Linked DNA regions of Homo sapiens: region 1 is linked to region 2. The links come from fine-mapping of genetic effects on gene expression. A gene starts in region 2. The other region holds a variant in brackets. All regions are shown on one strand. Distances are from middle to middle. Region 1 overlaps TIAM2 (TIAM Rac1 associated GEF 2). Region 2 holds the start of TFB1M (transcription factor B1, mitochondrial).

Region 1 (2,842 bases), 57 kb before region 2:
TTTCAGAAAGTTGTTTTGAAATTCCAGCAGAGACAGTTCTCATATGAGAGATAAAGAGCATTTTCTAGGCTGGGCATGGTGGCTCATGCCTGTAATCCCAGCACTTTGGGAGGCCAAGGCAGGTGGATCCCTTGAGCTCTTGAGAACAGGAGTTTGAGACCAACCTGGGCAACATGGCAAAACCCCATCTCTACAAAAAAAATATAAAAATTAGCCAGGCGTGATCATGCGCACCTATAGTCCCAACTACTCAGGAGGCTGAGATGGGAGGATCACTTGAGCCCAGGAGGCGGAGGTTGCAGTGAGCAGAGATCACACCACTGCACTCCAGCCTGGGTGGCAGAGCAAGACACTGTCTTTAAAAAAAAAGGGGGGGGGAGGGGCATTTTCTACTTTTAATTGAGCAGCAAGGGAAATCCACAAGGTGAGAAGATGCATAGGAATATGGTGTGATCTTCATGATCAAATTACAAAGCACCTTAGTGAAAGAAAGGAGCCTAGATTTATTATTACCAATTAACTTTTCAACTTACTCCTTGGCAAAATAAGAATCTTAGCCCATGTAGTAGTTTCTAGTGTCTAGTTCTATTTACATAATTGAGCTCTGGTAATCTAAAAATGCTGAATTGCCTAACTTACAACTGTAAACCTAAGTCAAAAATGTCCATGTTTTCAGTAGCTACATTTTTGCCTAATTACCAGGATAGTTGCTAACTGAAGTCATATCATAAAATAAAATCTTAATGTTAAATCTTACACAAGCTTTGAGGCAAACATTACACATTGTGTAACCTGTTTCTGTATCACAGCGAAATGTGTTTTTCTCACTGTAGCTTCATCCAGGTCTTTAAAAGTCCTGAAGAATTCCTCCAGCAACGAGTGGACCGGTGAGACTGGCAAGGGAACCTTGCTGGACTCTGACGAGGGCAGCTTGAGCAGCGGCACCCAGAGCAGCGGCTGCCCCACGGCTGAGGGCAGGCAGGACTCCAAGAGCACTTCTCCCGGGAAATACCCACACCCCGGCTTGGCAGATTTTGCCGACAATCTCATCAAAGAGAGTGACATCCTGAGCGATGAAGATGATGACCACCGTCAGACTGTGAAGCAGGGCAGCCCTACTAAAGACATCGAAATTCAGTTCCAGAGACTGAGGATTTCCGAGGACCCAGACGTTCACCCCGAGGCTGAGCAGCAGCCTGGCCCGGAGTCGGGTGAGGGTCAGAAAGGAGGAGAGCAGCCCAAACTGGTCCGGGGGCACTTCTGCCCCATTAAACGAAAAGCCAACAGCACCAAGAGGGACAGAGGAACTTTGCTCAAGGCGCAGATCCGTCACCAGTCCCTTGACAGTCAGTCTGAAAATGCCACCATCGACCTAAATTCTGTTCTAGAGCGAGAATTCAGTGTCCAGAGTTTAACATCTGTTGTCAGTGAGGAGTGTTTTTATGAAACAGAGAGCCACGGAAAATCATAGTATGATTCAATCCAGATATGGGTTAAATTCCTC[A/C]TTTTACTTTTAAACTGGTGGTAAAGTGGAAATTGCAAAAAAAAAAAAAAAAAAAAACTGTTCATTCCTGGGTTTTGTGCAGTATACATTTTCCCACAAAATGGTTGTAAAGATTTAAGTTATTTTAATTTATTGTGGATCAGAAACCTAGATGAAACTGGTCAGAATCTGTAAATTACTTAGTTTATATCCACTTTGAGCAGGTATCAAATGATTTAGGATCCTTAAAATTACATTCTAATAATTAAGTTATGTGGAAAAAGTAAGGCTGGGGAAGTCGTGATTAATAGTTTTCAAAGGGCCATTTTTTAAAATCCTCTGGGCATTTTCTTTCAGCTGTTTGTTAGTTTTTGCTTTATTTAAAGCATATTTAAGTTATTTTAATGTGGTTTAGGGGCAAAATGTGCAGATACTTCATTTTTGTAAGATAGATTGTAATAGATGCTGTTTATACTAAACATGTCATAACTATCTATACAGTATATATTAAAAGAAAGCTTGTACTGTATCTTATTTGATGATATTTATTTTCTCTGCCAAGCTGTATAGTAAAAGGAAAATAAGTCACATCTGGTCATTGGCATTTGTATCGTCATTCTGTAAAGACAAAAGAGTACCTATATAAGAAGCTCCACGTAGTGCAAATCGACATCTGGTAGGCTGCTCGCCCCCAGGCAGCAGCTAGAGTCTGTAATTCTCTGCGTCATCCTCTTCTTTTTCTTCATTTTTGCTTTTTCTTCGCTTGAGTTCTTCTCTGAAATTATATGCAAAGAGTTGTGGGTCTTCATCACACATTTTTCTGTATACATCACAGAGGCTCTTAAAGTGTGAGATGGAGAGCTGGCGGGGCCGAAGAGTAGGGTCTATGTCTGCCAACTCTAACAGCCTGCCCGTGCTTTCCAAGCGCTGCGCTTCAGGGAATAACATTCTGAGGGGAAGACAGACAGACAGAAAAATAAGAATTTTACTTAAATTCTGCAAATCATGACACTTTTTAACCCTCATTTGAAAACAACACAACACAGTTGCTGGCTACTGACAGCTGGAGAGAGTGGCAGGAGCCTCTTGGATTATATAGCACCAGATAAGAGGCACGGCCCGCCACTGAGGCAGCTCTAACCTGAGGCGCGAGGCAAGCACACAATGGGAAAGCATTCTCCAAAGCTAAATCAGTACATGTACTTTTTAAAGGTAAGTAAGTAAGTTTAAAGTAACATCTGCTCAGCTGCATTCTTGTAGAAACATAAGCTTGATGTGCCTCATGTTTCAATGTGAAAGTTGTATTATTTCTTGTGTGACAAATCATCAGTTTTGATTCTCTAGAATTTGAATGTATCA
Region 2 (2,916 bases):
CAGGAGTTTGAGACCAGCCTGAGCAACATAGTGAAACCCTGTCTTTACTAAAAACACAAAATTAGCTAGGCACGGTGGCTCACGCCTGTAATCCTAGCTACCTGGGAGGCTGAGGCACGAGAATCACTTGAACCGGGGAGGCGGAGGTTGCAGTGAGCTGAGATCATGCCATTGCACTCCAGCTTGGGCAACAAGAGTGAAACTCCATCTTAAAAAAAGAAAAAAAAAAAAAAGAGAAAACTTGAGTTAAATTATTTTATCCAAAGTCATATTGGTACAGGCAGAATAAAGACTACATGTCCAAGAAATAAAACATTTTATGTTTTCTGGAGTGTGCTTCATTTAAGTGAAAATGAACTTTTTGGGTGTGATTTACTGCTCTTTTCAACTTCTGAAGTGGGACTAAATAGAATGAAATATGAAAATCTCAAAACCTAAGTACTCCAGCCGTGACTTAGTAGACGTATTTGTAATATATTTTTGCAACCTCATCTCATAGAACATCACTAAGCAATGGTGATGGTGGTTAAACCAATATATAAATACATTCGTCAAAACTCATCAAATTGAGCACTTCAAACTTATTAATTTTATTGCACATAAATTATATCTCATAAAAAGTAACTTTAAACAATTAGGTGTGGGAATGTAAACTTGCTAAAAGTAAGCTCCTCGAGGAAACACCGCCTTGTTCACGCCCATATCCTACCCCCGGCACTAGCACAATGTTGCTTGTGTAATATGTACTTATGAATGAATATTAGCGCCCCCGAGGCTTAGACTGAACAGGTAAACGTTTAAAAAACGAATCATACGAGGGATACTCTTTTCACCAAGTTATTGATAAAATCCTCGCATCAATTTAAATTCTGGTAACTTTAAACTGCATGTAAAGCAACTGCAGTCAGCATGTGCTGTACTATTTCAGAATGATTGATTTCACAGTGACCCAGATTCCAATATTCACTAGCGCCTTTCACGACCCATGAACCCTTCCTCCCCTAGGGAGCTTGGCATTTATGCAGCCTGCCGGCAGGCTACACCCCCCCGAACGCGGAGTTTTGTGAGCAATCAACGCACTTCACGTGTCTCCTGGGCGGTGGGACCGGAGTTCTGATACAAAGAGGTCGAAGGACCTGACCAAAAGCCCGTCGCACGCCAGTGCCTGGACACCCGCCCGCGGGGACGTGCAAGACCCCCCGGCCCACGCCCCCACGGACACTGGGGAGACATCCGGGGAGCACTGCTAAGCCATCCACCTGTCAGCCTCAAGTCCAGGAGGAAATTCTGTGATAGCTGCTTCGCTGCTTGCAGTCTTAACAACTTAATGATTTCTCGAATCGTGGGCAACGGAGGGAGACGGCAAGTGCTGAGTTTTCCGGAGGCAGCCATGATACGCGGCAAGCACCATCCAACCCTACCTCACCCAGGACCTTCACCGCCGCTCCGAAAGAAACGCGCAGGGGAGGAACCTGCGAGACCTAAGGCCCGCCTCGGAGTCAGCCCCATTGGTCAGACCTATCCCACCGGAAGCGATGACCGCGGACAGGAAATTCCCGGCGTGCTGAGAGCGCATGCGCTAAGTCCTGCCGCGAGAAGGGCAGGCTGGGTGGTCGGCGGCTTCCGCCTGTGAGAGCCGGGGGAGAGCCGGGTGGACTAGGCTTCTCCTGGGCGGGCTATGGGGAGAGCGCCCAGGAGGGCGGGACGAGGCGGGGCCTGGACAGGGTGGGGTTTTTCGGAGGAGTTGCTCTGAGAGGTGCAGCCGGTTTACTCCCGCCCTGAAGTTCCCAAGGGCTTCCGGCTCTTTAACGTTCTAAATACCTGTCTGTGAATATTAGAGGAAAAGCGGGTGCTTAGAGGCAAAGCTACTGTTTGTTAGCAATTCTTTCTTACTGTGAGGCGTTTTTAGAACCGCCGCTCTGCAGATGCTGCATGATGGGTTTTTAACTTCGTTCAGCCTCAGTTTTTTCATCAGTTAAATGGAGCTAATGTCTACCTCAAAATTGTGAGCACTAAATGAGAGAGATCGCCTGGTGTGCACGTTCAGAACATAGTGCACGCATGGCATTGGGTAAGCTCCCACGTGATCAGTGGTGGCTGTTATTATTTGGCAGATGAATAATTGGCCAGTGTAAAGAGGTCATTCGATTTGCTAGGATTACAGCTAAGAACAGAGAGAAGACTGAAATATGAGTTCTGTCTTTCCGTTATACGAGATAAAAACAACGAAGCAAAAAAAAAAAAAAATTAAAGTTTCTCTGATAGGTGGGAGAATTTTGCTGTTTTAACCCTGCTTATGTTTGGACATTGCTGCGTTGATCACAAATGAATTTTAAAGTTTCTGTTCCTCAATTAGTAAGTTTTTAAAAAAGCTAATGGAAAACGAAACAACTATGGGTATGGATATAAAAATGAGGAGTACTTTGAAATTCCAGTGGAAAACTCAACCACCTTCTATAAAAGCTGTTTTAAAAGGAACTGAGATAATCTCCTAGCTTTAAAAAATAGTGATGACTACCATAGAGGTAAGGAGATTTGCCCAACGTGGCATCAAAATGTAGACTGGAAGTACAAACTCTTGATTCAGATATCTTATCGTCCAAAACACAGTATACCTGACAAAGCATTATTTCACAGTTATATTCATTATTTCCCGTACTCCTCACAATGGTCCCATGTGAATGAGATTATTATTCTTAGTTTGCTGTGAAGAAATAGGGGAGGTGAGGTCATTTGACAATGCCCAGAGTCAGACAGCAAAGTACAGAGAGAAGACAACCTGAGTTGTGTTTTTTCTGAGTTCTGATCTCACTGGCCACACTCAAGTATCAGCTTATTATTTTTAAGTTAATATGTGTTAATTTTGTAACATCTAAATATATAGAAATACGAATCTAGGTGTAAACATAAGCTTAC

Evidence for each region. PIP is the estimated chance that this variant, and not a neighbour inherited with it, causes the effect.
Region 1: its variant is fine-mapped to the expression of TFB1M in whole blood (TOPMed, PIP above 0.99).

The regions. Positions count from the first base shown.
Region 1 is chr6:155,255,651-155,258,492 of GRCh38, forward strand. TIAM2 (TIAM Rac1 associated GEF 2) reads left to right here. Exons shown (of 27, transcript NM_012454.4): 27 at 834-2,073. The coding sequence ends at 1,471. It overlaps TFB1M (transcription factor B1, mitochondrial), which reads right to left. Exons shown (of 7, transcript NM_016020.4): 7 at 484-2,432. The coding sequence ends at 2,186. Among named protein-coding and RNA genes, the nearest start is that of CLDN20, 6.9 kb to the right of the region's middle. The variant A/C (reference allele first, on the strand shown) is at 1,505.
Region 2 is chr6:155,313,037-155,315,952 of GRCh38, forward strand. TFB1M (transcription factor B1, mitochondrial) reads right to left here and starts at 1,448. Exons shown (of 7, transcript NM_016020.4): 1 at 1,260-1,448. The coding sequence starts at 1,392. RefSeq lists enhancers at 1,223-1,542, 1,541-2,531, 1,613-1,662, 2,213-2,262 and a silencer at 1,713-1,792.